2 separate regions of the Homo sapiens genome follow, and region 1 is linked to region 2. Evidence: fine-mapped expression QTL. A gene starts in region 2. The other region holds a variant in brackets. All regions are shown on one strand. Distances are between the middles of the regions.

Region 1 (15,432 bases), 29 kb before region 2:
TGTATTGATTTTGGCAGTATGGCCATTTCCACAATATTGATTCTACTCGTCCATGAGCATAGGATGTGTTTCCATTTGTTTGTGTCGTCTATGATTTCTTTCAGCAGTGTTTTGTAGTTTTCCTTGTAGAAGTCTTTCACATCCTTGGTTAGGCATATTCCTAAGTATTTTTTTTTGCATCTATTGTGAAAGGGGTTGAATTCTTGATTTGATTCTCAGCTTAGTCCCTGTTGGTGTACAGCAGAGCTACTGATTTGTGTACACTAATTTTGTATCCCGAAACTTTGCTGAATTCATTTACCAGATCTAGGAGGTTTTGGGAGGAGTCTTTAGGTATATGATTATATCATCGGAAAACAGTGAGAGTTTGACTTCCTCTTTACTGATTTGGATGCCTTTTATTTCTTTCTCTTGTCTGATTGCTCCGGCTAAGAATTCCAGTTCTGTGTTGAATAGAAGTGGTAAGAGTGGGCATCCTTGTCTTCTTCCAGTTCTCAGGGTGAATGCTTTCAACTTTTCCCCATTCACTGTAATGTTGGCTATGGGTTTGTCATAGATGGCTTTTATTACCTTAAGGTATGTCCCTTCAATGCCGACTTTCCTGAGGGTTTTAATCATAAAGGGATGCTGGATTTTGTCAAACGCTTTTTCTGCGTCTATTGAGATGATCATGTGATTTTTGTTTTTAATTCTGTTTATGTGGTATATCATATTTATTGACTTATGTATGTTAAACCATCCCTGCATCCCTGGTATGAAACCCACTTGATCATGGTGGCACACACTTTAAATAAGCAGACATAGACAAGTTGAAGGTAAATATATGAAAAGGATATACCACGGAAACACTAAGCATAAGAAAATGGAAGTGGCTATATCAGTATCAAAAAAGTAGATATCAAAAAAGTAGATATCAAAAAAGAGTATTGCTAGAGATAAGAGGAGATGTTTTATAATGATAAAATACCAATTCCTCATGAAGAAATAAAATACTAAATATATATACACCTAATAATAGAAATTCAAAACACATGAAGCAAAAATTGGCTGTGGAAGAAACTAAGGGGAGATCTAGTGGAAGAAACAGACAATTCCATTATCACAGCTAGAGATTGTAATGCCCTTCTGTCACTGACTGATGCAGCAAGTAGACAAAAACAACCAATCAAAGAAATAAATCAACACACAAAAAAACCCCAGTAAGGACTTAGAAGATTTAAACAGCACTACTAAGCAACTTGATTTAATTTATATTTATAGAACAATGCACTCAGCAATAGCATAATACACATTCTTTTGATGTGTTCAAGATAGACAACAGACTGGGACATAATACATTTAAATCCATTCAAATAATACAGAGTATGTCCTCCGATCGTGATGGAATTATGTTAGAAATTGATAACAATTAGACATTTAGAAAACCCTATTTGGAAGTTAGGCCATATATGTCCAAATAATCCACGGGGCAAAGAATAAATCACATGGGGAAAGAGAAAATAGTTTGAATTGACTAATAATAAAAACACAACATGCAAAATTATTAGGATGCAGATGAAGAAACATAAATAAAAACTAATAAGAAATTGTAATAGATTTTATATCTGTTAAAGAAATTGAATTCATTATCAAATGCTTTCTCACAAAGAAAACCCCAGACTCACATTATTTCATTAGTGAATTCTGCCAAACATTTAAGAAATAAGTAATACCAATTTTACACACACACTTTCAGGAAACAGAGGAAGAGAGACTACTTTCCAGTGTATTTTAGGAGCACAACTCTGATTCCAAATCTGATGATTCCAAGGAAAGAAAATTACAGAAATATTACTCACAAATATAGATGCAAAAATCTTTAACAAAATATTTATAAGTTGAATAAAAAATATATAAAATGGATACTAACTCACGACAAAGTAGGGCTTATTATGTATGCAAGTTTAACATCTAAAAAATTAATCAGTGTAATTCACTACATTAACAACATGAGGAGAACAATGATGTGATCATCTTAATAGTTCCAGAAAAAGAATTTAGCAGAACCCAGTACCCATTTATAATTTTTTAAAAATGTCAGCATACTAGGAATGAAGGGAACTTCCTTACTCTGATAAAGGGCATCTATGAAAAGCCTACAGATAACATCATATTTAATGGTGAAACATCAAATTATTTCCCCATGATTGCCTTGGGTGGAAGTATGGCCACTCTCACCACTTATATTCAACTTTGTTCTGCAGGTCTTAGTGCAATAAGATAAGAAGAAGAAATAAAAGATATTCAGATCAGAAAAAAAGTAAAACTATTGTTACAGATGAATAATTATATAAACATACAACCTTAGTACTTATAAGTGAATTTGTCAAGGTCACATGACTCAAAATAAACATATGAAATTGTATTTCTATAATAATGAACAATAAGAAAATGACATTAAAACCGTAATATAATTCATGATATAAAAATCTAGAATTAACCTAATCAAAGATGTGGAAGAAAACTCTACATTGAAAACTACAAACATGGCTGAGAGAAAGAAAGTAAAGACATGGAGAGATATACCATATTCATGGATGTAATATTCAGTATATTTAAGATGTCCATTTCCTCAAGTTGATCTATAAATTCTAAACAATTTTAATCAAACTCCTAGTAGGCTATTTTGCAGGGGAGGGAAGAAGAAATTGACAAGATGATTCTAAAATGTATATGCATATGCAAAGGATTTAGAACAGCCAAAACGATCTTGAAAAAGAACAAGGTGGATGTGTGTACACTACTCAATTTCAAGACTTACTAAAAAGCTATCATAATCAAGACAGTGTGGTTTTGGTGAAAGAATGAATAGATTGACTTGCACAGATCAACAAATCCCACATATATGATCCGTTTATTTTCAACAAGTTGCCACATTTAATCAAGGACCAAAGGAGAGACTTGAAAAAAATGGTGCTGGAAAAACTGGGTATTAGTATGAAAAATAATGGACCTTAGTTCTTACATCATACCATACACATGTGGTCCTCACACGTTAGTGTGCAGCAGGATCCCAAGGAGGGCTAATTAAAATCCAGATTTCTGGGCCCCGCCCACAGAGTTTCTGATTCAGTAAGTCTTGTGTGAGGCATGAGCATTTGCATTTTTACCAAGTCCCCAGGTGTATCAGTCTGTTCTCACCCTGCTGTAAAGAACTACCTGAGACTGGGTAATTTATGAAGAAAAGAGATTTAACAGACTCACAGTTCACAGGCTTAATAGAAAGCATGACTGGGAGACCTCAGGAAACTTACAATCATGGCGGAAGGTGAAGGGAGAAGCAAGCACCTTCTTCACATGGTGGCAGGAGAGAGGGAGTGAAGGGAGAAGTGCCACACACTTTTAAACCATCAGATCTTGTGTGAACTCACTCAACATCAAGAGAACAGCAAGGGAGAAATCTGGCCCCATGAACAAATCACCTCCCACCAGGCCCCTCCTCCAATTTGACATGAGATTTAAGTGGGGAGACAGATTCAAACCATATCACCTGGTGATGTTTATGCTGCTAGTCTGGGAAGCACACGTGGAGAACCCCTGCTGTCCATAAAAATAAACTTGAAATGGATCATAGATCCAAATGTGAAAGCCAGATGAAAATGTAGGAGGATATCTTCTTGTCCTTGGGGTAGGCAAAAATTTTTCAGACAGAACCTAGAAAATACTAATTGTAAAACTAAAAAAAGAAATAGATAAATTGGAGTTTGCCAAAGTTAAAATTTTATGTCCATCCATAAAAAATATCATTGAGAAAATGTACAGGCAGCCACAACCTTGGGGAAAATAGTCATAGGACATGTATCTGACAAGGTACTTGTATCCATGATATATAAATTCCTGTATATTCATAACCAAAATGCAAAAGCCCAGTTTAAAAAATAGGAAAAAGATTTGAACATTTGATAAAATAAAGCATACGAATATCCAATACATGCATGAAAATGTGTTCAATATCTTCAGTTATGAGGGAAATGCAAATGAAATCCTCAGTGATGTATCACTTCACATATACAGAATAGCTAAAAAAACAAAAAACAAAACCCAAAAAAACAGACAATACCAAATGTCGAGAAGGCAGAGGAGCAACTGGAACTCTTCTACACTGCTGGCTGCAGCAAAGTGATTGAACCACTTTTGGAAAGCTGCCTGCTTTTTCGGAAAGCTGCTTGGTTGTTCCCTATAAAAGTTCAACACACACCTATACAGTGAGTGCACAGTTTTGGTCCTAAGTATTTAGTTAGGAAAAATAAAAATATATGTATGCGACTTGTACAAGAAGGTTTATAGCAGCCTTGTGCATCACAGTCCCATATCAGTCGCCTCCCAGCAGGCCCCTCCTCCAATTTGACATGAGATTTGGGTGGGGACACAAATCTAAACCATATCACCAAGTGTGTGTCACACAATGCAACATAAGTACAGGGCCAAGGCAGTAGAAGGGAGTCACATCACTTACATAATGGACCTAGACATAAGCCACAATGCTCTTTGTAGGCAGGGTTCAGGCAGAGAATTCACATCACCTGGGTGCTGGTCCCAGTGATATGTAAAAGTGCCCTTTGTAGGCAGGGTCAAGGAAGGACCTTGTAGGCAGGACCAGTATTGGAAACATTGTTGCTGGACAATCCAAATGTCCAGCAACAGGTGGATGAGTAAGCAGATGTGGTTTACTCATCCCAAGGAATATAACTATGCAGTTAAAAAGAAAGGGCTTAGTGATACACTGAACAACATGTATGGATCTCCAAGACATGATGCTGAGAGAGAGAAGCTGGACACAAAAGCGTCCACACTGCATGGCTCCATTTATAAGGAATTCGGAAACAGGTGCATCCAGTCCGTGGTGCTGCACATCAGAGCAGAGGTCACCTGGGTGGGAGCCGGGGGCTTTGGGCAATGGCTGAAGGCACGTGGGGGAACCTGCTGGACTGACAAAAATGTTCTGTGTCTTGATCCTGGTGGCGGCTACCTGGCTTTGTACAATTGTCAAAATTCATTGATACTGTACACTGACTTATTAAATGTCAATAGAAAAAGAGGAAAAAGGTGACCCCAGAAAAGGACAAGGCAGAATCTGAAAACGGAAGGAGGGTTGAGCTGTCCTGAATGTGACGGGGGCTGCGGAATCTGAGTCACAGGGGCCTGAAACTCAGCATGGACAGGGTTTTCACACGGATGAACGAGGCAGGATTGGAAAAAACCAAGACTGTTTTTTTCTCCAGTGAGTTGAGCTTCCTCAACAAAAGATGGGGAAATTGGGAATAAATGAGTGAGGCACCAGTGAATGTGCAGTCGCAGAGTTCAGCTGTGTGGATGTGGACCAGGGAGAAACAAGACAGAGGAGGAAACAGCAAAGCTCACTAAGAGCCCAGTGTGCAGAAGTCACTGGCCTGAGGCCCGGGCTCCCCTGCCAAGTGGCGGGATGGATATGGTGGCCAGGCCTGATGGGAATCTTCTTCTCTGCATACCTTCCCCCTGCCCCCACCCCCACGGGGAGGCCAGCACTGGGCCTGATCCGTTACCAAGACAGAAAGAGCTGATGTGGGCATCCTGAGCCTGCCTGACTCCCAGAAGTACCTTAGGCAAGACCTGCCACCCAGCCGCATCCCAGACGGCGGCAGCATGCCCTGCAGACGTCCTCACCTGGCCCACCTGCTCCTGGAGCTGGGCCTTCTCTCGCCCCAGCAGGGCTGCCTGCCCCTCCAGCTGCTCCTGCCGCTGCTCCAGGCGTCCGCAGGCCTGCTGCAGGCCCCTGCGCTCTGCCCGCTCCAGCGCCAGCTGCTGCTCCGCCTGTGCCAGCTGCTCCCCGGCCCGGGCCCGTTCCTGCTCCAGAGTCTTCCGCTGTTCCCGCAGCTGGTCCCGCTCCTGCTCCAGCTGCCACCAGGTGTCGGGGGCTCTGCATCCACTCCCCCCATCCTCGGTCCCTGTAGGCCAGCCATCCCCAAGGCCTGCCCCGGGGCACTGTCTTCCCTCCCTCAGGCCTGGCCCAGGGGCACTCTCTTCCCTCCCTCAGGCCTGGCCAGGGCTAGTCAGGCTCCCTTGTCCCCAAAACCTCAAACCAGGAGAGGAAGTGATCTGGGAGGATGGAAAGAAGGCCTAGGGCTGGGAGACCCACAGCCACCTGGGAAACAGGTTCCAGCGAGGCCCGCCCCACTGGCCCTTGTCTCACCTGGAGAGCCAGGTGGTTCAGGGCACTTTTGTCCTGAGCCAACCCCTCCATCAAGGCGGCCATTGCGGCCAGGGAGTCCCTTTGCTCCACTCCCTCCGACTTCAGCCGCCTCACAAGAAGCTCCAGGTCCGCATTGCTGCACTCGGCCTGGGGCAGGGAGGGGGATGCCAGGGAGGGACCTTCAGCTTCCAGGGCAGGGCTGTTGCCGCTGGGAAAGGAGTGAGCCCTGAGCCACGGAGGTGTGCAAGCCAGAGCTCTTGGGCGGACATGGTGGGAAGGTCGCCACAGTGGGGAGGTCTCAGGGCCAATGGTGGCTCCAGGCACTAAGGCTCCAGCCAGAGGAGGTGGCTGGTGGTCCAGGGAGAGGCCACAAAGAAGCAGGCGTGGCCAGCAGGGTTGACAGCAGCTGGGCCAGGCTGGTGCCTACTGGTTGGGGACGGGAGAGAACTTTGGTGACTTTGGGATCTCTGGTGATGGGCTGAGGGGCCCGGCAGGCAGGAGAGAGGGAGTGGGAGGCCAGGTCAGTGAGGCCAGGGTGGGTGGGGGCAGACAGGAGAGGGGGCGGGGTTGTGGGGAGCAGAGTGTACCCGCGCCAGGGCGCTGCGCAGTCCCTCCCTCTCACTCTCCACGACATCCCGCTGCAGCTGTGCTGTGCTCAGTGCCTCCCGGACCGATGCCAGCTCCTCTCTGAGCCCGGAGACCTTCTCCTCCAGCTGCTGCAGGCGGCCTTGACTGAGGCCCCAGACCAGAGGGCGGGAGGTCGCTCAGGGTGAGCAGTGGCTGCCCCATGGGATTTCAGGCAGGCGACCACCTGCAACTCCCTCCAAGCCCAGGGAGGCCCAGGAGGAGCATGGAGTCCCTGGAGGACCAGGAAGGCAGGGAGCCCTTCGCTTCCAGGCTTCATTTCCGGGGCAGGGGAGGCACAAGTGCCTCCGGGGGGACGGGAGGGGTGGGGCCCCACATCTGATGGGCCCACGGGGTGGTGGCCCAGGTGGGGCACTGGGCCAGAGGAAGTGAGGGTTGGTCTGGAGGATGGTGCAGCCTGGGGAGAAGCCTGGAGAGCCCCCGCCCCTGCCCTGTTAGGGCCACCACACCCTGAGATGAGACAGGTGAAAAAGCAGACCCGTGGCCCAAGGCCAAGTGGCTGATGGTGGCAGAGTGGGGTCTCTTCTGTGGGAGGGGCCCTGCCCACCCAGCCACGGCCGCGCACCTGGTCTCCAGTGCCCTGCAGCTCCGCTCCCTCCGCAGAGCCAGCTCCTCCCTCCGCTCTGCCTGCAGCAGGAGGCTTCTCTGCAGCTCTGCAGCCTCGGCCTCCAGCCCCTGCTTCTCCGCATCTGCAGCATCTGCCTTCCCTTTCAGCTCCTCCACCACCATCTCCAGAGCAGCCTTCTCCCTGGGGATGGTGGGGGCAGAGTTGGGGCGGCCCTGGACACATTCAAGGTGCACCGCGTGCCTTGGTGGGCATTGGGGGCTGGGTGGATGCCAGCCCCTGAGACTGCATGGGCAGAGGGAGCCTGAGAAGCAGACAGGGTCTCACTGGCGGGTGTGTCCCACCCTGGCCCACGCTCAACTGGTGCTCACACAACTCTGCTAGAAGGCAAGGACCCCTCCCCGGCTGGCAACCCCTCCAGCTCTAGAGGTGCTTGTCCTGACAGCAGCCCTGGGCCCTCAGGATCCCATACACCCTGTGCAAGGCCGTGCAACCCCTTCACCCCATTACCTCCCCAGGAGCTTGCAGGATGCCCGGCACTGCTGCACCTCGAGCCTCTGGGCCTCCAGCTGGCCCCGAAGAGCCTCTCGTTCCCGTGCCTGCTCCCGAGCCCGCTCCTGCTGGAGCTTCTGTGCGGCCCACAGCTCCCGCCGGCTTTCGGACAGCTGCTCC[T/C]GGAGACTGGCCACCAGTGCCTGGGAGGACTTCAGCTGCAGGCACAGCTCCTGCTCGGGTGGGGTAAGTTGTGGGCCTCTCTGGCCTAGGCAGGCTTTGCCCACCGAGGCCCACCAGGGCTTGCGACTCCCCAGAAAGGACACCCCCGACACTGGGGCCCCTCCCTGGAGCCATGGGGCTCAGGGGCAGGCCCCATAACTACCCTTCAGCCTGAGGGGCTCATGTTTCTGCCCTCAGGGAGACAGGGAGTCCTGTGGGCTGCGGCTGCCCACCTGTTCCCGCCGCCACCGCCTCTCTATGGCTGCCCGCATGGCCTGCAGTGCGGGGTCCAGGGTGGCTGGGGAGCAGATGTGTGGTGGGGACGCCCCTTGATGGGGGGATGTGGCACGTTGGGGGCTCCTCAGTGGGCGCCGTGGCTCCCCCAATTCAGTGATGCTGCTACCTGCCAGCTCCAGGCACCGGGCGTCCTCCTGGGCCACCTTCAAGGTGCAGAGAGGAAGGGATAGAGGGGCCCAGAGCACAGGGCCATGATTTGGTGGGGACCGCGCAGACAGTCCTGAGGGTCCCTGCGGGCTACCTCCACCTTTGCCACTGGGAGGACAGGCGAGGGGCCACACCTTCCTGACGTGCCTCAAAGTGCACTGCAGGGACCCCACCTTGCCCTGCAGGCCGTCCACTGCCGCACCAGGCTTCCTGTGGCAGGGGAGACTCCTGAGCAAGGGTGACAGACCCCTGCCACACAGCCACCCCCGTCCTGCCCACCAACCAGGTTCTGCAGGTCGGTTCTGAGGGCAGCGATGGTCTTCGCCTTCTGCTCATTCTGCTCTGTAAGCTTCTCCACCAGCAGGGTTTGCTCCGAGAGTCTGGGAGGAGTCGGGGGGTGTGGGGGTGAAGGGCAGGGCCCAGAGGACGGGCACCCAAGCATGCCCTGGCTCTGCCCGGACTCCTTTGTGCGGTGGCCCCCCTGCCGGTGCTGGGTGATGCCTCCGTCTGAGTGGCCTCTGTCCCTGGTCTGAGCATGTGTCTCTCCTGCCACAGAGCCTTCAGTGGCTCCCAGTGTCTCAGGAGTCAAGGCCCACACCCTGACCAGCTCTCCAGCCTCAGATGCAGTGGCTGCCCGAGGCTCTGCCTTGTCCTTGTGGCACAACAGAGGGAGTGCCCACCACAGGCCTTTTCCTGGCCAGTCCTTCTGCCTGGAGCACCTGTCACCATTAGTCTAACAATAAGTAATTTTACTGTTCCTTCCTTCCCAGGATGCACCTTCTTCCTAAAGACCCCAGGTCCCCCTTCCTGTGGCTCAGGCCCTGGTGTGCTGCCCCTGCAGCTGTATGGCACCGTTGGGCCCCCATGTCCTGTCTTGCTCATTTGGGGCTGGGTTGTGGTGTGTTTGACTCAGCTGGACCCCCTGAGGGTAGGGAGGGCTTCTGCCTGTCAGCCTGGTGGGGTGTTTGTGGACAAGTGGGCCCTGGACCCTGGGTTGTAAGGCACTGGCCCCACGGCCAGCAGGTTAGACCTCCACTGGGGAGCCGCCTCCCTACTTTCTGCTGAAGCTGCCCTCAAGAGACCTCTGAGCCCCCGATGTGGGTGGTGGGTCCAAAACCTTCCACAATCACGGCGGGGCTCATAGACCCCCAGAGAGGGCGTGGGTGTCCTTCATATCGGGCAGGAGGTGGCCTGGTCCCTCTTCCTGCCTCGGTTTTTATATGATTTACCTAAGGTGAGCTCTTGCCCCTAGAAGAATGTTCCTGCTTTAAGCCTGAAAACTCCAGTTCTGGGTGCTGACCCCCAGGACGCAGTCCCAGTGAGTTCCCTGCCGTGCTCCCTGAAACCCTCACTGTAGGAGACCCCAGTGTCTGCCTCCTGGGCATTAGGGGAGTGCCCTGCAGCCACTGGGATGGTGACTCTGAAGAGTGTGCACCACCAGTGACATCAGGGCCCCACCTGCCCTGGAACGGTGTGACCACATCTGGGATCCACAGCTGCTCGGCACGCTGGATGGGCCCCGACCCCCCGGGCCCTCCCTGTGCAAGCTTGCTGGCCCTGGGCGCCCACCTGGCCTGGAGCGCCACCTTCTCTGCGTCCCAGCGGCCCTGCAGCTGCAGCATCTCCCCAGCCTTGTCCCGAAGCTGCTGCCCCAGGGTGCTGGCCGTGCTGCTGGCCGACAGCCGCAGGTTGGAGTCGAGGTTCAGGCAGGCGGTGTGCAGGCGGCGGGCTGTCCTGGCCGTGTCTGCCTGCAGGTCAGCGAGGCCCCTGGGAGACAAGGGCAGCATCTGTGGCGGACTCAGGACCCATCTGCAGAGGGAGGGCCTGGTCCCATCAGCCCCACAGAGGACCCCCTCCTTGGCCATCGTCAGGAGAAGCCCCCACTGCATGGCATTGATTGTTCCCATGTGTCACCAAACACCAGGAAGGCAGCTGGGGAGGAGTGAGCAGGGGCAGGACCAGGTTGCACACTTCAGGCTTCAGCAGCCTTCACCGAGTCATCGACCCTCTGAGCCCCCGACTCCTCCTGCGCAAGGGGCTGCTACGTACCTAAGGGCTAGCAGGGTGGTACCAGGACTGACCTCCAGTGTGGCACCCAGCAAGGGCTGGACAGACTCCAGAAGCTCCATCTGGGTAGGTGTCCCCCACCCCACAGTGTCCTCTTCACCCTCCTCTCATCTCTCCTTGGTGTCCCCAACCTACCTCCCTGGCCTGTTTGTCCTTCTCCCCTACTGCCCTCCTAGGCTGCCCTCATCGCTGCTCCCACTGGCCGGCCTGAGGCCCAGCCAGGGCTGGGTGAGAAGCCGGCAGGCCAGGGCTACTGCACCCACGGGAGAGCCCGCCCTGGGCACCGATTTCCCCCTCCCCAAGGGGGTTTCAGCTCCCTGCAGCCTGGTGCCTGGCCCCAGGTGGGGCGGCTGGCACTCACCTCTCAGTGGCTACACGCAGCTCGGCCAGGTCTGTCCCCAGCACCACGGCCTGTCTCCACAGGAGGAGGAGGTCCCGGGGCTGCCCCAGGCCCCCTGACCGGGTCTGAAAGCAAGAGGCCTCCTGTCTACTTCAGGCTGGGGCCCCTTTACCCTCCCTGAAGCCCACTCTTTTCCAAGTGCATGTCCCTCTCCATGGGGGCTGGAAGTGGACCCAGCATCCCAAAGCCCCCATATCTCACAGGCAAATGAGCCCTGGGCTCCCCCAACCCCACCCTGGGGCCATACTGTGCCCCTCCCCAGGAGATGATCTGGGGACGTGACCACATCCAGCCCTCCCAGGCCAGCCTGCGTGCATGGAGGTGGGAGGGTGGGGTGCGTGGGCCCCTGAAGAGAGAAGGTGCTGACTCAGTCGCGGCTCCCCAGCTACTCTCAGGAACTGCTCAGGCTTGGAACACCCCAGAACCAGGCCTGGCCCCTGCTGGGGCAGACATTTCTGCAGCACAGGGCTCCTGCCCTGCCACTCCAATGGAAGAGGACGGGCTGCCTTTCTCCAGTACAGTCTTTCTCCTTACTCTGGAGGGCTCCTGAAGATGTCCAGGTGTTGGTCTGGCACTTCGAAGGTGCCAGGGACACAGAAGCAAGTTAGAAGCCTCTAGCACTGGGTACCCAGTTCAGCAGGGAGGAGGGTGGGAAGCCACAACCGAGACAAGGCCAGTGATTAGGCTGTAACGGAGCGGAGTGGGAGGACTCTGTGTGGGGGCAGGAATGGGGGGAATTGTGTGTGCACAGTGGTTCCAGCCTTGCAGGGAGCTAAGATGAAAGCCAGAAGTCTCAGAGTCTCCACACCACCTTCTAGGCCCTGCACTCACCTTCTCCTGCTCACTGACCTCTGGAACTCAGGGTGCTACTGTGTTTCTACCACCTCTGCCTGCCTGTGACAGCCCCACCCCTGCTCCTCCAGGGTGCCTTCAGGTAGAGCACTCACATCCTGCCCGTTCTCCAGAACCCCCAGAGAGGACCATGACCAGAAACCAGCGGAAACAATAGAACGAGACCTTGAAGAACTTCAGGTATTAGATCAACTCACCTTCATGAAGCTTGCCTGACCCCCTCACCTGATCCCACACCTGAGATTCCCCCCAGCTGAGCCCATAACACCTGGCCATACACCCTCCGGAGAACACATCCCTCTGTGTCCATTCCACCTGGCTGTACACCCTCCAGAGGGCATGCCCCTCTGTGCCCATTACACCTGGCCATGCACCCGCTGGAGGGCACGACTCTCTGAACCCATACCTGGCCATACACCCTCCGAGGGCATGCTCCTCTGAGCCCATTACACCTGGTCATACACACTCTGGAGGGCATGACTCTGTGAACCCATACCTGGCCATACACCCTCCAGAGGGCATGCCCCTCTGTGTGCATTACACCTGTCTGTACACCCTCCGAGGGCATGCTCCTCTGAGCCCGTTACCCCTGTCTGCACGCCCTCCGAGGGCGTGCTCCTCTGAGCCCGTTACACCTGTCTGCACGCCCTCCGAGGGCATGCCACCCCGTGCCTGCTGTACGGGGTAGACGCTTGCTTCAGCCGCACCGCCTCCTGCACTCCGTGTTCATCACAAGAGCAGGCTGAGACACTTCTTGGCAACATGGAGGTGTGGCTGCCAGATTAACCTGCCGCTTAAACTCATGAGAGTCCAGATTCACAGCCTCTTCCTGAATGCAGGGCTGGGCTGGCCTGAACGGCTGGAACACTTAGGCCAGGAGTTGGTGAAGTCACAGACCATCGGGGAGTGTACGCAATTTCTTGCTACACACACACACACACACACACACACACACACAAAACAGGCACACATGACCCTGCAAGAGATTATAAGGAAAACTGCCTGTCCAGAATGTCGGAGTTAAACAGAGAAAAAAGTCTTCCTTGTGGATATGGAAGCACACTACATCACCAGGATAGTCTCAAGAAAACTGAAGCTGAAAATGTACTTCAATGTGGCCCCAAAGACTGTTAGAGCCCCTTGGCATCTATCAGAAACAAATAAAAACCCTTCCTAGAAAATACTGTATTCACCTCAGGTTTCAAAGAAACTTCACAGAGTTCCAAGGAAAATAAGCAGCTCTTAGTTAAAAAATAAAAAATCACCAAAGGCACAAGGAAACAAAGGACCATGATCAGAAACCAGCAGAAACAATAGAACCAGACCTTAAAGAATTTCAGATATTGGATAGTCAGACACAGGCTACAAAAAGACTATTTTTAACATGGTTCAACAAATAAATAAAAGGCTTGAAAATGTGAGTTAAGAAGCCAGGCGAGGTGGCTCATGCCTGTAATCCCAGCATTTTGGGAGGCTGAGGCAGGCGGATCACCTGAGGTCAGGAGTTCGAGACCAGCCTGGTCAACATTGTGAAATGCCATCTCTACTAAAAATACAAAAATTATCCAGGCGTGGTGGCACACGCCTGTAATCCCAACTACTCAGGAGGTTGAGGCGGGAGAATCGTTTGAACCCGGGAGGCGGAGGTTGCAGTGAGCTGAGATTGTGCCACTGCACTCCAGCCTGGGTGACAGAGCAAGCTTCTGTCTCAAAAAGAAAAAAAGAAAATGTGAGTTAAGAGTAAGCTATTTAATATTTGGGAAAGAATCAAACAGAACTCTTAATGAGGAAAAATACAATATTGGCAATTTAAGCTAAGTAGGCAAATTTAACAGAGATTAGACATCAGAAGAGAAAACTGATGGACTGGAAAGGAAATTTGAAGAAATTATCTAGAATATAGTCTAGGGTAATAAAAAGAACAAATCCGTGAACTGTGCCTGGGAGACAGCGTAAGAATGGCTAACACATGTCTAGCCGGAGCTCAGAGGAGGGGAGATGGATGATGAGCCCCGGCAATGTTTAAAGAATATTGACTTCCCCAAAATAACAAGCGACACAGAGGTTCCGCGAACCCTAAAGCGGGATAAACAAATAAATCTACACGCAGACACAACACAGGGACACGACACAACAACAAGTCGGAGCAGGGGTCTTCAGAGCAGCCGGTGAGAAGACATGTTACTTCGATAAGGAGCCAGTCAGAATCCAGGCAGCCTGGAAGCTGACTTCTCAACAGCAGCAGCGGAAGGAGAAAGAGAAAGCATATCTTTAAGGTGCCGAGAGAAAGCAGCTGTCAACCAGTGAGAACAGTTCTCAAGGACAAAGGGAAAATAAAGACCTGGGTGATCGAATGCCAAACTGAGCTCAGGGACCCTCTCCTTCTGGCATTTGTTCTCACACAGCAGAATCGGCTCCCGGGATCCTCAGGTGACCTGTCCAGCGGTCCAAGGACAGGGACCAGGCAGTGGGAACATGAGATCTGCCTCAAACGCCTCGAGCCAGAAGGCCTGGCATAGGCGATGACTCCTTGCTGATAGCACGGCTCCCGCTGACGCTATGCAGAGGCCGGCATTCCCTCTCGGGGTGTAAACCTCGGCTGGTTTGTCTGACACCTGCCTTTCAGGAGCAGCAGCTGTGGGGGGCTCGGGGCTGGGACCTCGGGGGCGAGTGGCGGCCCCTCTGGGACAGGCTTGTCTGAGGGACGTCTGTGGAGGCAACTGGAGGCCAGAAACGCGGCTGCCCCTCCGGCTCCTGCCTCCACCTGGCGCAGCACATCTTCCGGGGGGCCCGTCTTCCTGGGGAAATCCTTGCCCGTGGTGCCCATAGCATGCAGGGGCTGGGCGTCCAGTCCCCCTTTGCTGGAGGGCTGTTGGGAACACCTTCAGGCCCTCAGGGACTGCCTGGCTGGAGAGCCACGGTACCCAAGGCCACAGCAGCTTCAGGGGGTCCCACGACCATGGAGAGATCCGAGCAGGGCATGAACACCTGGATGTCTCCCTCCCACAGGGGCTGGTGCCTGGAGCTCTGTGCCCTGACCCCCTGCATGCCTCAGGGTCTCAGAAGTTGGAGTGGGAAAGGCTGCAGGGGGACCTGGGGGGCCACGGCCAGGTGCTGTGAGCAGCAGTGCAGCCCCAGGCTCCTTCCAAGGTCCCTGCTCCTGAAGTCTGGCCAGGAGTTCGGCCTACGGAGAACAACCTGCCTCTCCAAAGAGCGTGGTCCACACCAGAGCTGGGGTGCGGCCCCAGTGCCCCATTCTGAGATCCCTGCCCTCCTTCTCCGGGTGGGGGGCAGTAGGGGTGGACCACGAAGTCCCTCACTCCACAGACTGCTGTGGCCAAGCCGGGTTGGGGACATGGTGTGGCAAGAAGCTGTGGCCTCGTCCCCAAGAGGGACAGCCACTGAGCCAGTGCACCCTCACCATGTCCCTGCCTGCTACCCAGCCATAGGCACCCAGACAGGCGGCCGCCATGAGGTGAGCAAGGGTTGGGGGAGCACCTGTCTCTGGGCCCAGCGCCTCAGCTCCAGCTCGCCCTGCAG
Region 2 (15,432 bases):
TGGAGAATTGGCTGGTGTCAGGAAAAACCCACACATTTGGTGTTAAAAGTGGTATGAGTAACAACAGTACAGACAGATAAACCTTGCCTGGAGGGAAGTGCGTACGTCAGAGAGGAAAAGAAGCGGGAGGGTAAGACGGTGCGGTTACTACGGAAGACAGCATGACAGGTCTCCACAAAATTAAATGTAGACTCTCCGCGCGACCCAGCCATCCACTTCTGGGCATCTGCCCGAAAGAATTGAAAGCAGAGGCTCGAAGAAATATTTGTACTCCGAGGTTCACAGCAGCATTTTCACAGCGGCCGGCAGGCAGAAGCTACCCAGGCGTCCATTCAGAGATGAATGAATAAACAGAGTGTGGTCCCTCTATGAGTAGAACATTACTCAGCCTTAAAAAGCAAGGAAATGCTGGCGCCTGCTACAACATGGGTGGACCTCGAGGGTGTCATGCTCAGTGAAATAAGCCCGCCACGAAGGGACAAATACCATCTGATCCACTTAGACAAGGCTGCTAGAGTCACCAAGTTCATAGAGACAGAGAGTAGGATGGTGGGGGCTGGGAGAGGGGGGAATGGGGCGTGAATGTTGAATGGGGGCAGAGTCTCAGTTTGGGAAGATGAAAGTTCTGGGGCCGGGCGTGGCGGCTTACACCTGTAATTCCAGCACTTTGGGAGGTTGAGGCGCGCACATCGCTTGAGGTCAGGAGTTCGAGACCCTCCTGGCTACCGTGGCGAAACCTCGTCTCCACTGAAAATACAAAAAATAACTGGGCATGGTGGCGTGTGCCTGTAGTCCCAGTTACTGGGGAGGCTAAAGCACGAGAATTGCTTGAAGATGGGAGGGCGGAGGCTGCTGTGAGCCGAGATCGCACCACTGCACTCCAGCCTGGGCGACAGAGACCAACTCTGTCTAAAAAAAAAAAAAAAAAAAGTTGTGGACGTGGATGGTGGTGATGGTTGCTCAACGCTACGAATGTGCTTAGTGCCACAGAATTGTTCCTAAAAATGGTTAAAATGGTCAGTTTTATGTTATGTATATTTTCCCACAATTTAAAGAAAAATGAAAAATTTTTTTAAAAATTTATTTTATTTTTTTTGAGACAGGGTCTCGCTCTGTCTCCCAGGCTGGAGTACAGTGGTGCGATCTTGGCTCACTGTTACCTCCACCTCCTGGGTTCAAGCGATTCTCCTGCCTCAGCCTCCTGAGTAGCTGGGATTACAGGCGCCTGCCATCATGCCTGGCTAATTTTTGTATTTTCAGTAGAGACGGGGTTTCACCATGTTGGCCAGGCTGGTCTCAAACTCCTGACCTCAAGCGATCCGCCCGCCTTAGCCTCCCAAAGTGCTGGGATTACAGGTGTGAGTCACTGCACCCGGCCAGAAAAAAAGAAATTTTTAAAAAGGCTGAACAATCAATGAGTCAAGCACATATTTCCAGAAGTGAGATGAAGAACAAACCCAGAGAAACTGAAAGCGAAGGAAGAATGCATATGCAGGTTAAAGGAAGAATGCATATGTAGGTTAATGAAACACAAGATAAGAATACTATGAGCCGGTACGCGGCTAGTATCAGAAACGAGAAAGGGGATGCCACTTCGGGGCAACCACTTCCTCCCCACTGTGCCCAGGACTGGGGTTCCAGACCCAAGGCTGTCTGGAGTCCTGGGAAACCCCTGTCTCGAGCCCCTCAGCAAAGAGGGACAGCTGGTTACCCCACGGATCCTGCAGACATCCAAAAGACAGGAAGAAGATATTGTGAACAACTTTTGCCAATTTCAACAACTTGAAAATTTGGATGTAATGGACAATTTCCTAGAAAAATAGCACAAATCAAAATTCAAGCCAAGGAACGGGAGTCTGAGGAGCCCCCAGCTCTGAGGGGACTGGGCTTTCTGTGCTGGGTTCCTCGTCCGGGACTCTGCGCCATGCTTCTCCATCAGCTGCGGGTCTGGGTGCTGGAGATTCCGAGGAAGGGCACACCCCCACCCCTCAAGGCAGTCACAGATACCCCCCACTTCACGGGCAATTTCAGGGGGCTTTGCACTCCCCAAGTCCGACTTGCTCACCCCAGGGACAGAGGTTGAGAGTTTCCAAGCCTGCCCCTTTACATCCAATTCCAGCTCCAGGGTGGGGGCATTCTGGGGTGCTGTGCAGAGGTTGCTGGGGGGCTTCCAAAGGAGGGGAGAGCAGCTGTGGCCGGAGGAAGAGGGATGTCAGAGAGGCTTCTCCGGGCCTGGGAGCATGTTCGCCATCCGTCCAGAGCCACCACCCCTGGTCACAGGGGGCCTCCTGCATCCTCAAGCCACGGCCTTCCTCAGGCCCTATGGTCTCCCAGGCTATAGCTGGAGGGTGGAGTGTCCCTACGGTTCTGCTGCCCATCTGGACAGCTGATCTGGGCGTCTGGCACCCGCCTGCTCCCTGCTCACTCTGGGGTAATGGCATCAAGATCTCAATCACTACAGCAAAAATAACAGGTGTCAGCAGGGCGGGCAGAGCAGACTTCACTGGGGCCTGCGTAGCCTCCAGATGAGTTTCCTGGGGACAGTGGGAATTTGGGGGCAGACAAAGCTAAGCATCTCTCAGCCACATTTGCACAGTGCTCATGCCCCTGCCTGATGTCAGCATCGGCCTGGGATTCCCCCTCAGACCAGCCGCTAACCACAGCAGCTCCCTCCAACCCTTACGCCTCGGCTTTCCTGACATCCGAGGGGATGAGAATCCTCACAGGGCTGCAAGTGTCCTGCAAACGTAGTGTGCTGGCTCTCCAGCCTCCATTCACCAGCCCTGCTCTCAGAACTCATGGAGCCAACACCCAGGCAGAGCTGGCCGAGCTCCAGGTGGAGGAGGTAGAGGTCACCTGAGGTGGAGGAGGTAGAGCTCACCCCAGGTGGAGGAGGTAGAGCTCACCCCAGGTGGAGGAGGTAGAGGTCACCCGAGGTGGAGGAGGTAGAGCTCACCCGAGGTGGAGGAGGTAGAGCTCACGCCAGGTGGAGGAGGTAGAGCTCACCCCAGGTGGAGGAGGTAGAGCTCACCCCAGGTGGAGGAGGTAGAGGTCACCCGAGGTGGAGGAGGTAGAGCTCACCCCAGGTGGAGGAGGTAGAGCTCACGCCAGGTGGAGGAGGTAGAGCTCACCCCAGGTGGAGGAGGTAGAGGTCACCTGAGGTGGAGGAGGTAGAGCTCACCCCAGGTGGAGGAGGTAGAGCTCACCCCAGGTGGAGGAGGTAGAGGTCACCCGAGGTGGAGGAGGTAGAGGTCACCCCAGGTGGAGGAGGTAGAGCTCACCCCAGGTGGAGGAGGTAGAGCTCACCCCAGGTGGAGGAGGTAGAGGTCACCCGAGGTGGAGGAGGTAGAGCTCACCCCAGGTGGAGGAGGTAGAGCTCACGCCAGGTGGAGGAGGTAGAGCTCACCCCAGGTGGAGGAGGTAGAGGTCACCTGAGGTGGAGGAGGTAGAGCTCACCCCAGGTGGAGGAGGTAGAGCTCACCCCAGGTGGAGGAGGTAGAGGTCACCCGAGGTGGAGGAGGTAGAGGTCACCCCAGGTGGAGGAGGTAGAGCTCACCCCAGGTGGAGGAGGTAGAGCTCACCCCAGGTGGAGGAGGTAGAGGTCACCCGAGGTGGAGGAGGTAGAGCTCACCCCAGGTGGAGGAGGTAGAGCTCACGCCAGGTGGAGGAGGTAGAGCTCACCCCAGGTGGAGGAGGTAGAGGTCACCTGAGGTGGAGGAGGTAGAGCTCACCCCAGGTGGAGGAGGTAGAGCTCACCCCAGGTGGAGGAGGTAGAGGTCACCCGAGGTGGAGGAGGTAGAGGTCACCCGAGGTGGAGGAGGTAGAGCTCACCCCAGGTGGAGGAGGTAGAGCTCACCCCAGGTGGAGGAGGTAGAGCTCACCCCAGGTGGAGGAGGTAGAGCTCACCCCAGGTGGAGGAGGTAGAGGTCACCCGAGGTGGAGGAGGTAGAGCTCACCCCAGGTGGAGGAGGTAGAGGTCACCCGAGGTGGAGGAGGTAGAGGTCACCCCAGGTGGAGGAGGTAGAGCTCACCCCAGGTGGAGGAGGTAGAGCTCACCCCAGGTGGAGGAGGTAGAGGTCACCCGAGGTGGAGGAGGTAGAGCTCACCCCAGGTGGAGGAGGTAGAGCTCACGCCAGGTGGAGGAGGTAGAGCTCACCCCAGGTGGAGGAGGTAGAGGTCACCTGAGGTGGAGGAGGTAGAGCTCACCCCAGGTGGAGGAGGTAGAGCTCACCCCAGGTGGAGGAGGTAGAGGTCACCCGAGGTGGAGGAGGTAGAGGTCACCCGAGGTGGAGGAGGTAGAGCTCACCCCAGGTGGAGGAGGTAGAGCTCACCCCAGGTGGAGGAGGTAGAGCTCACCCCAGGTGGAGGAGGTAGAGCTCACCCCAGGTGGAGGAGGTAGAGGTCACCCGAGGTGGAGGAGGTAGAGCTCACCCCAGGTGGAGGAGGTAGAGCTCACGCCAGGTGGAGGAGGTAGAGGTCACCCGAGGTGGAGGAGGTAGAGCTCACCCCAGGTGGAGGAGGTAGAGCTCACCCCACGGCACCTCTTTGTCTTGTTGCATCGCCTGATTCAAATATCCTGCCCTTAGTCCTCATGCAGCCCTGTGTGTGAGCAAACCCTGCATCTACCCTGTCACTCGGTCACCTGCACCAGCTGTGGCCATTTCTCTTTTCAGGTGATCTGTATTGTTTGGATAGGGCCATGTCAGCCTGCCGTGGCATAGTTTTGAGATGCTAAGAGCTGGGTTAACAAGCAACCATGAGTAAGCCAGTTCGTCAGGGGTTCCCTGGGGTCCCGAGGGGTCCGTTGGAGGTGGGGCCGCCTGGCTGTGGTGGTCAGCAGCAGGTGACGGCAGTGCAGGGAGGAGGGATATCCGAGGTGGGACCGCAGGCTGGGTCCTAGGTGGGCTCTGGGAAGTAGGGAGGCAAGGGGAGAGGGACACGGGACAATTCCCAGCCACTGTTGTCACACACCAGGTGCTACGAAGACAGAACCAGAACATCTGGAAGCCACAGAATAGACACTAGGGCTGAGCCACAGCCTCCCACAAATGTGCAGCGATGGAAACACTGTCCCCCGAGAGGCCCTGCTGGCCCCACACTTGGCCATGGGAGGGCAGTGAACGAGGTCCCAGAATGTCAGCACCAAGGGCTGCCTGCCCATCCCCACCCCAGTGCGCAGCCTGCAAACCCGTGGCTGCCAGGGACGCCAGTCACCTGAACGTCCACAGCCAGCAGCGGCCCCGGGCTCTCTCTCCACCCTGCAAACCTGTGGCTGCCAGGGACGCCGGCCACCTGAGCATCCACAGCCAGCAGCGGCCCCGGGCTCTCTCTCCACCCCGCAAACCTGTGGCTGCAAGGGACACCGGCCACCTGAATGTCTATAGCCAGCAGCGGCCCTGGGCCCTCTCTCCCCAGGCTCTCTCTCCTGGCTGAAGGCTGCCTGTGTGTGCATGCAGGCGCGCCTGCTTGCATCCGTGACTGGCTGCACGCTCAAGGCAAACACGTGAGCAAGTGGAAAGTGCCCCGGGAGCCAGGAAGGTGCCTCCTGGCCATCCCCTCTCTTTGCCGCGTCCCTTCCAAAGTGTCCTGGCAACCTGCTCTCAGGAGGGTGCAGGGAAGTGACCACCCCACTGACCTGGATCACGGTGTCCAGCCCCAGTAGGGGCTGTTGGGAGGCGTCCCCATTGCCAGGCTCACTGGAGGCAGAGCTCATTGCAGCCCAGAGCGCAGGACCCCAGAGAAGTCTGGGCTTTGCTACCTGGCAGTTCTCCTCCAACTGGCCAGGGTCTTCCTTGGTCCACGGGCCCCACACCTGTGTGGCACCTGGCTCTGCAGTCTTGTGTCCCGAGCCTGGGCACCCAGTTGCTCTTGCCCTGTGGGTAAGACAGTATGGCCAGCTGAGCCCGTAGGCATTGCTGTGGCAACCGGGACGCTGAGAGCTGGGTTTCCCTGGAAACAGGAGTGCAGGACCCTGTTGCTGTGGGGACAAAGGAACGCTGTTGGCTGGAAGCAGTTTTGCCTGGAGACCTGGAGACGCCCTGGGTAAAACTGTCTACCTGAGCAACGGCACCTGGGAGGGGCTGGCCTTTCCCCCAGACACCCCCTCCCGCATTCGCTCCAGGGGGAGCCGTGTGCTTGCTGGACACACGGTGGGCAGAGGCAGCATGCAGAGCACTGGTCTTCCTTCATCTGGACTCATAAACTATGACTTTTGAAAAACATTTGTCAAAGAACGTAGTGGTCGTCGCAGGTGGTGGACTGAGACCTGGAGAGGGACGCTGCCTGCCTGAGGGGCAAAGGAATCTTGTCTTCCTGGCCTTGCACCTGTGAGTCCTTCTGGAGTCTGACTCCCGCTAGAGCCCTTCAGAGTCACCTGCCCATGGGTCCACCCTTGCCCTGGGAACCTGCACTGTTTCCCACCCTGTGGAATCGGAAAGGACCACCAGCCACCCTGTCCGAAGGGGAGAAGTCCCTGGTCAGCATGCGTGGTGGAGGGTCTGCAGAACTTGCCCACGGCTTCCCACCCCAGGGGCTGCCAGGGGCTGTCTGGATGCCAGGGCAGGGCAGCTTCCCATAGGTGGGGCAATGGGAGGGAAGCAGGGCCATGCCTGCCACCCCCAGGCCGGCTGTCCCTACAGACGCAGAGCTCTGTGGCTCGGAGTCTGGGCCTCCTGGGGCCTCAGATGAAGTCAGGTGCCTGGCAGGCAGCCATGCCAGCGTTTCCGCCCCATTCCACTCCCTCTGGGGCTCCTCATTCTGAGCTGGGACCTCCTTGAGCTGATGCTGGCAGGAGTCCCTCTGGGGAAGGGACAGCCGCAGAGGTGGGCCCTGCAGCAGGAGTGGCTGCCCTCCCATGAAAGGCTGCCCTGTTCAGGGGCCTCTGGGGATGGGTACATCTCCGAGTCTCTCAGAGACCCAGGTTCTTGGAGCCAGCCCAGGAGACCGGGAGGCAGCCTGCCCAGCAAGGCCACAGGGGCCCGGGCAGTGGAGGTGGATGCCAACTTGGGGGACCAGCATGTTTGTCCCTGGGGCTGCCGAGAGAGGGGCTGAGGGCCCAGGCCACCTCCTCAGAGGCGAAATTCAAGAAGCAGAGGCACCTGTACTCAAAAGGAGCCCTCCCAGAGAAACACCTGTGCTCTGTTCACCCCCACTCCTGAGGACAACCTCCAGGGTGGCCCTGCAGGGACAGGCCAGGCTCTCTGGCCAGACATGGCCCCATGGGCATCCGGGCTGGGCTTCACTGGACAGTCCCTGGGGTGCCAGGGGCCTGGTCAGTCCTTCCGAACCTCGTGCTTCTGGCCCAAGCATGACCTCTGGCTTCAGGTCCAGACTGAGGACACCCACTCCATGGGCTAGGCCCCTCCCTGAGCAGCCTCCAGATCCCCCAGGGACCCAAGACTGCCGGTCGCCCACCCTCAGAGTCCTGGGAGGCCCTGTGGCCATGGAGAGTCCTGCCCTCCATGCCTCAGCCTGAGTGGGGAGGGGCAGCGTTTCCTGCTGGGGCTCCGCTGAACTCCCCTGAGGTGGGTCAGGGCTTAGAGGGTGTGGCCCTGGCCTCTGGTGAGAGTTCCTGCTGGGGGCAGGGCGGGTGGAGTGAGGAAGGGGCATCCGTGTGGACCTGTGAACGGTGGGGAGTGGCTGGGAGGCTAGTGTGATCTCCCATGCGGGCCTCTTGGATAGGTGGAGATAAGACCTCATATGCCAGAAGCAAGTCCTGTGTCAGTCCTGACACAGATGCCCATGTTCAGGGGCGGCCCGGTGGCCTGAGTCGGGGTGTTGGAGAGACACCCTGACCTGAAGCCGTACATCCAGGCCAAAGGTGACGTGCACTGGGCCCAGCCAGGTGGAGACACCCCCTGTGGCCTCTGCAGGTGACGGCTCTCAGGAGGGCTGGTGGGCAGGGGCTCCCATCTGTGTTTAATTTTATTTTTATTTATTTATTTATTTTTGAGATGGAGTCTCGCTCTGTCTCCCAGACTGGAGTGCAGTGGCCCTATTTTGGCTCCCTGCAACCTCCCCCCACCAGGTTCAAGTGATTCTCCTGCTTCAGCCTCCAGAGTGGCTGGGATTAGAGGCACTCGCCACCATGCCCAGCTTATTTTTGTATTTTTAGTAGAGATGGGGTTTCACCATGTTGACCAGGCTGCTCTTGAACTCCTGACCTCAAGCAATCCTCCCGCCTTGGCCTCCCAAAGTGCTGGATTACAGGCGTGAGCCACTGCGCCCGGCCTGTCTGAGTTTTAGAAAGTTCCTTCTGGCTGTGGAGTTGCCCTGGACGAGACCAAACGTGAGGATGGGATTTTGTCGGTCCAGGTGGGCATCGCCTGGAGCCTCTGTGCCATCTGGGGTGGGCGTGGCCGCCTGCAGTTCAGCCTCCCCCGCCTGCGGCAGCTCCAAGTCCATGATTTTCCCAGATGTCCTCCCGTGCCCCTTTTCCTCAGTCACTGCAGGGTTTGCCCACGGAGGAGGGATTTCCTGGGAGAGTCCTGGTGAACCATGAAGGTTGGTCCCTCCTCTTGGTGGGGCCCTGACCCAAGGCAGGCCCTCCTTGCCGCCCACCTCCTCTTAGCCTTGGGGTCCTGGCTGCTCCACCGGACGCATCCTCGTTTCTTTTCCACTTCTCCCCCTTTGCTGCTTCTCCCCCTTAACCCTGCCCCCCTGTGTCTGTACAGGAAAGCCCACGCCTGCCGGCGGTGGCCCGGAGTCCCCCCAGGATGCCTTTCCAGGGCGCGAGGGCTGGCCCAGCCCCGTGCATGCCCCCCAAGGCCTCACTGCGGGGTGTCCATTATGGGGCTCCCAGACCAGGGCCATGGCTAGACTAGAAGAACCCACAGGGTAGGCCTTGGCCGGAGCCTGGCTGGGCCCCCCGGGGAACGCCCTGGGACAGTGGAGGATGGGATAGAGGGTCCTCCCTGAGTGCAGGCGTTCTGTGGGGTGGGCTCTCGGGAGGGCGGGGCTCGGGGGGCCCTGCCCAGTCCTGACCCACAGCCTGATGGGGGTTGAGCTCTTGTTCTCTGGACCTCACGCCTCCCTCCCTGGGACTGGGGAAAGTACTCGGCACCCATGGCCATTCTAGATGCGGTCCTCCTTGTCCTGCCCCACCTGCCTGGCTTTGGAGGCTGAGGAAGAACCCTCCTGGGCTCAGAGGAACACCTGTCTGTAGATACGCCATCACCGGTTTTGTCATTGTTCCCTTGAAACAGGAAACCTTGCTTATCCTTATCAAGGATAACGTTGTATCTCCTTATCAAGGAGATAAGGAGTTACAGCCTTATCTCCTTGGGGACAGTCCCTAATCCTGGCTGTGCTGGGCCCACATGGGGACACAGGAACCGATGATGAGCAGGCACAGACACTCTGGCCGCCAGGCACCCACACAGCCGGCCATGGGTGTCTTTTCCTGTCTAGCACCAGCAGGGGATGTGCCTCGGACAGAACCCAAAGAGGCTGTGACCCAGGTCAGCCCCGGGGAGCTATGGAGCCACTCCTCTTGAGCAGTCACTGGCTGTCCTCTCAGACAGTCTACTCTGCCAGGTGTGGACTTGGCTCTGAGGAGGAGACGCTGGCCCTGGGGGGTGCAGAGTCACTGAATGAGCTGAGACAGTGATGGAAGGCAGGAAAGATCCCAGTGTGATTACGGCAGGACGGGCAGCCCTGGAGGCTGTGAGGCTGGGACAGAGGGCGCCACATTCTGTCCACTGCCTACCCTCTCTGCAGAGCTGCCCTGCACATGAACTTTCTTCAGAGGGCATGGAAGTGCCACCCCATTCTGCACACAGCAGCCGAGTGGCACCGTCCCACCCCCATCTGTCGGGCGTGGACAGGAGGCCAGCTGAGGGCAGGGGTGGTGGCTGGTGAGGCAAGTGGTCTGATGCGGGAGAACAATGCATTTGGTGTGATTTTCAAGGTCTTTTCCACTCTCCTGAGAGGAGAGGCCAGCTGGATACATGTGCTGGGTTTTAGGGGGCATCCAGATGGTTGTGGGCGCAGGCAGGTCCTGAGAGGTTCTGTGGGGTGGGAGAGAAGACCTCGCTCTTCACCCACCCTGTGTTTATCCACGTGAGGGGTTGCCGGTGGATGCTGCCGTGGCAGGCCCTGGGGGACCTGGGTCCTGGGAGAGGCTGCAGGGCTGCCTGGGGACCCTGCTCTCTGGTGCTTTCTGTCAGCGTGGCAGAGGCTGAATACCACAGCACAGTGAAGAAAGGTGCCTGGGGAGGGACCTCCTGCCTGGGGACCAGAGGAGGCTTGGGGCTACTGGCCTGCCCAGGGATCCAAAGGTAAGAGCCCAAGCCATACAGAGCTTAGAAGAAAATGTAGGCAAAAGCTTCATGACACAGGATTTGGCAGTGATTTCTTGGATATGACATCAAATGCACAGACAATGAAAGAAAAAAATAGATAAATTGAACTGCATCAGAATTGAAAACTTGTGCATCAAAGGATGCTATGAAGAAAGTGAAAACCCACAGAATGGGAGAAAATATTTACCAATTTTATATCTGATAGGGGATTAGTATTGAGAATTTATAAAGAATTCTGGCCAAGCGTGGTGGCTCACACCTGTAATCCCAGCATGTTGGGAGGCCAAGGCAGGTAGGTCACCTGAGGTCAGGAGTTCGAGACCAGCCTGGCCAAACCCCGTCTCTACTAAAAAAATACAAAAAAATTAGCTGGACCTGGTGGCGTGCGCCTGTCATCCCAGCTACGCAGGAGGCTGAGGCATGAGAATTGCTTGAACCTGGGAGGCAGAGGTTACAGTGAGCCGAGATGGCGCCACTGCACTCCAGCCTGAGTGAGAGGGAGACTCTGTCTAAAAAAAAAAAAAAAAAAAAAAAAAAAGAATTCCTACAACCCAACAACAAGAAAACAAACAACACAATTAAAAATGAGCGAAAGACCTGAACAGACGTTTCTCCAAAGAAGATACACACATGGCCAACAGGCATGTGAAAGACACTCAGAGTCGCCTCATCCGAGAAATGCAAATCAAAAACCACAGCACGTCAGCACTTCACAACCCCTGGGATGGCTCTTACCCAGAACGCAGAGGATGAGTGCTGGGGAGGACGTGGAGAAGCCAGGGCTCTCGTGCACTGCAGTGGCGATGGTGTGACAAATCCTCAGAAAATTAAACAGAGTTCCCATATGATCCAGGAACCCACTTCTGGGCATATACCCCAAGGAACTGAAAGCAGAGACTCAAAGAGATATTCATACCCCTGTGTTTATAGCAGCATTTGCACTGCAGCCGATGGTGGAAGGAGCCCAGGTGTCTGTTCACAGATGATGTGGTCCGTCCCCACCGTGGAACATTACTCCGCCTTTAAAAGGAAGGAAATTCTCACACATGCCACAATCTGGAAGAACCCTGAGGATATAACGCCAGGTGAAATAAGCGCGTGCTAAGGCCGACGCTTACCTGAGGTCCCAGGAGCGCTCCAAGCCCTAGAAACGGAAGGTAGTATGGTGAGAGCCAGGGGCTGGGGGAGGGGCAGGAGTCAGTGTGGAGCAGGCACAGAGTCTCAGCCTGGAAGATGAGACGAGCTCTGGAGACTGACGGTGACAATGGCCGCGCCGCAACACGAATGTTCTTCATGGCGCTGAGCCACACACTTAAAGGTGGTCAAGATGGTAAAAGTCATGTTTATTTACCAAAATGTAAAAAACTAAAACGCCAACCACCAAGCAAAACAAAACCCACTGTGGCCAGCACCTGGGGAGACCTAGAGGGTTCCCCCACCCAGCTGCACGTTCCAGGGGAGCTGCAGCCTGTGGTCTGGCCCTGAGCTGGCGACTGGAGCCCCGGACAGACGGAGCTGGTGTCCCCGTGTGCCCAGGTGAGCGGTCTCCATGCCACCACTGAGAGAACACCCCCTTCCCCTCTCTCACACCGCCCTCCACCCACCCCTGTGCCGTCGAGCTTCCTTCTCCCCGGGACACCTGCCCAACCCCTGTCCTGGGCTGAGCCTGCCTCAGAAAAATGAGTCTGCTCCAATGTCTGCTCCCCACTGGATTTTCCAGGTGAGGGATCAGCCCGCCCTCAGCCCCATGCGGCTCAGCTCCTCAGGGTGGTCCAAAGTAGCCCCCAGCCCACGACCCCACCCACCCCGCCACACACCTGACTGTTCCCCAGCCATCTCCGTCCACCTGGGGCGTAACTGCCCATCACCTCCTTCCTCCCCCAGCCCCTGCTTCTTTGCTTTGCTCCTCCCAGCGGGGGTTCACCCCTACCGCTCAGTGCTGCTCCGAGGGGGGCTGCCAGGCTTAGCAGTGGAAATACAGGGATCCCTGTTCTATTCCAACTCCAGATCAACAACAATAAATGTTTGTGTGCCATGCAAATTAGATTTGAACTTCAGATTAATCCTAACAGCTGGGCGTCCTGCATTTTATTCGCCACCCTGATGCAGAGTTAGGCCATGAAGGGGAGGCCGCAGGGGCCGGGCATGTGCTCTGGGCGTCAGGACGCGGGTTTGTCCCTCGTGGTGAGCATTGCAGCTTTATCCTGAAGTCCAGACTGCTCATGTCAGCACGGAAGCTGCTTCCCCGCAGAGGCATCTGCGTAAAGGGCGTCTGGGCGCTGGGCGGCTGGATTCTGTCTGAGAGTCTGTCTCCTGTGGACTCCTCACTGTCCGTTGAGGACCTGGAGCCCAGGCGGGGCAGCGACTTGCTCAGGCCACACCATGGTGCCAAGCTCGTCTGCTCAAGTCTGACTTTTCTGCATCCGCACCTAAGCCTGAGCAGGCCTGGCAGGTACTCTGGGCACCTTGGCTGAATCGGACCACAGTGTCCTGGAGAGAAGGGCCCGATGCAGAAGAAGGGTCTCCTTCCCGGAGTACTGCAGGCATTGGTGGCTGGTGTAGACCTCGGCTGGAGACTCCTGTCTTGGTTGCTTTTGCATGCCTGAGGCTGCACAGAGCTGTGCCCACTGTTCCCAAACAGGTGGCTGGGCTAGGGGAGGGGCAGCAAGCACAGGGTCCCTGCAGGCAGCGCCCTGGCAGGGCTCCTGGCACGCGGTGGTATGGGGGCTGCTGACCGTAGCTGGCTGAGGAACAGCCACCTCCTAGTCCCCAGAACCTGTGAACAGGACCTTATAAAGCACAGGAGAGAGTGTGGCCTTACACGGTAACAGACTGAACCGTGGGTGAATTGAGATCTTACGTGGTAACAGACTGAACTGTGGGAGGCCTATGGGATGAGATCATCTGGGACGGCCTGGTGGCCCTAAATGGTCTCCCCAGTGTCCTTGTAAGAGAAGCAGAAAGAGATAGCACAGCTGCCCACAGGAGAGGGCCACGTGAGGACGGAGATGGAGAGACGTGGCCAAGGAACGCGGCTGCACTGGAGCTGGGAGAGGTGGGAGCTGCGCTTCCCTGGAGCCTCCGGAGGGAGCCCAGCCACACAACACCATGCTCTTGGACGTCTGCCTCCAGAGCTGTGAGAATTCACTTCTGTCATTTTACCTCCGCCGTGGTCTGTCGCACCCCTGGAAACATGCCCCTGCTGTGGGCTGCAGCTGCGTGGAGCCCCCACGGCTCAGGGTGTGCCCCTGTTGCTTCCCTAGGTTCAGCCCTGGGACTCTGTTCAGGCCGGAATGTCTGCTTCCCACCCCGCCTTTCCCAGCACATCCGGGACTTCCTGAAATACAGGATCCGTGCTCTGGCCCTGAGCTCTACTGAGAGACTGAATCAACACCCATCTGAGCATTTGCGGTTGCCACAGGTGCCAAGGAACCCCTTCTTGAGTTGCCAAGGCCCCAGGACACGTCTGGTTTCTCTGACCCTCCCCACCCTCACCACGCTACCCTCCTGGGGTCAGAGTTGGAGTCCTGGGTGCACTGTGGCTAGTGGCTGCCTGAAGGCCTCTGGAGCACTTGGCCCCTTTGTGGTCAAAGCTGCCCAGCCGTCCAGGGCGGGTGCCCGCATCCCCTCCGTCAGCAGCGGCTCTCCTCTCTCTCCCACAGGTCCAGCTTCCCGGGGACCTTTGCTTGTCCACAGTTCCCTGGTGTACTCCACATGCTCCTGTGTGCCTGGCATCGTGCCTGGCTCTAGGGTACACTGAGGAGTGTGACACCGTTCCAGCCATAGGGAGCTCACCATGTCATTCACCACCTGCCAGAAGGGCCAAGGGGCAAGGATGGGGCCTGGCCCATCAGAGGCTCTGACCTCAGCTGGGGCACAGGTGGAGAGAGTGGGGTCCCTTGGGGCAACCAGCTGGATTCAGCTCAGGAACTGGTGGGAGCCAGGAGGCCAGAGCCAGCGAAGGACAGGACAGGGTGTCAGCCAGGTGGAATCCCCTGCTGAAGAGAGGAAAGGGGGGACATGGTCTTGTGCTCTTGGTGTTGACAGCAGTGGAGAGGGGGCTTTAGGGGCAAAGGAGGATGCAAAGCCTGGGGGCCGCTCCCGAGGGAGAAGGGCCCTGCTCTGTGGCCACTGGAGGGAGCAGCTTGGGGGCTGAGAAGCCGAGCCCCTCCCATGGCTCAGAGCCCCTGGGCACTTTGGGTAGATTGGGGTGTGGTTGGGGGTCTCCTGGGCGAATTCAGAACACCGGGAGGTTCCTGGGAAGGAGGAGCTGGGACACTGAAGGTGTCATCAAATCACAGATGTTGAAGCCAAGGCCCAGAACAGGCAGATGAGCTCCCTGGGCCACTGCGGCCGAGGGTGAGGGGTAGGACCCCAGCTGCCCTGCAGCAGCGTCCACCTCCCCCAGGCCAGAGTCCTGTGGAGATGGAGGAGTGTGGCACACGGCTGTGTGTGGGGACCTAGGCAGGCCGTGGGTGAGGGCCCAGGACAAATGGGGCCTTGAACCTGAATGGCTGCCCTCGGGGAGGGGGACACGTGCTCTAAGCAACTCCAGGGAACAGGAGTGGGCCAGCTTGGAGGAGGGATATCTGTCTCTCGCTTGACCGTGGGCTACCCTGTGAGGTGGTGAGCTCCCTGTCCTGGGAGGCATGGAAGCAGAGACCCGCTCACTGGGCTGCAGCCCCTCATAGGGGCTTCCAAGCACCAGGAAGTGAGTGGCTGTTGCCCCCTGCCCCACCCCTCCTGGGATCCTGGTTCTGCCCACAGCTCTGACTCAGATGCAGCTCCCCGGGGGGTGAGAGGCCCACGTGCGGTGGCTACAGGGGCAGCATCTCCACGACGCCCCTGTGGGGCCATCTCCATGTTCACTGTTTGCAGACACCCCTGTGGCTGAGCACCCGATGCACTCGGCCAGCTGGCAGGGCCAAGGGTCGATGGGGCGGCTCCCTGCTGGTTGGGACTTGCACGGCCCTGAGCAGGGGAGGGGGGCGGGGCTGGCAGGGTACCTGGTGCAGGTGCTGGAGGGGGATGGTGGGGCGAGTTTCTCCACCTGGGTGAGGTGGAGCCACGGAGACTGCTTTTCTCCAGAACCAGACGAGCTCCAGCTCCCAGGCTAGGTGGGTGCCAGCTC

Direction of the effects. Alleles are on the strand shown, and positions count from the first base shown. SD is a standard deviation of normalised expression in the study named.
With allele C in place of T in region 1, the expression in tibial nerve of the gene that starts at base 5,891 in region 2 is lower (small effect, 0.31 SD a copy in GTEx).

Evidence for each region. PIP is the estimated chance that this variant, and not a neighbour inherited with it, causes the effect. A credible set is the group of variants that fine-mapping cannot tell apart.
Region 1: its variant is the best candidate, but not a certain one, in a credible set for the expression of CROCC2 in tibial nerve (GTEx, PIP 0.82).

The regions. Positions count from the first base shown.
Region 1 is chr2:240,925,839-240,941,270 of GRCh38, reverse strand. CROCC2 (ciliary rootlet coiled-coil, rootletin family member 2) reads right to left here. Exons shown (of 32, transcript NM_001351305.2): 5 at 15,391-15,432; 6 at 11,002-11,105; 7 at 10,143-10,340; 8 at 8,857-8,953; 9 at 8,363-8,569; 10 at 7,929-8,140; 11 at 7,419-7,601; 12 at 6,796-6,940; 13 at 6,209-6,355; 14 at 5,683-5,913. It overlaps LOC112268440 (a long non-coding RNA gene), which reads left to right and starts at 8,066. Exons shown (of 3, transcript XR_002959483.1): 1 at 8,066-8,153; 2 at 8,759-8,917; 3 at 9,129-10,129. The variant T/C (reference allele first, on the strand shown) is at 8,091.
Region 2 is chr2:240,896,795-240,912,226 of GRCh38, reverse strand. It overlaps CROCC2 (ciliary rootlet coiled-coil, rootletin family member 2), which reads right to left and starts at 5,891. Exons shown (of 32, transcript NM_001351305.2): 1 at 5,636-5,891. The coding sequence starts at 5,713. It also overlaps a transcript of MAB21L4 not described here. RefSeq lists enhancers at 6,738-7,238, 9,050-9,549, 9,550-10,051, 14,900-15,432.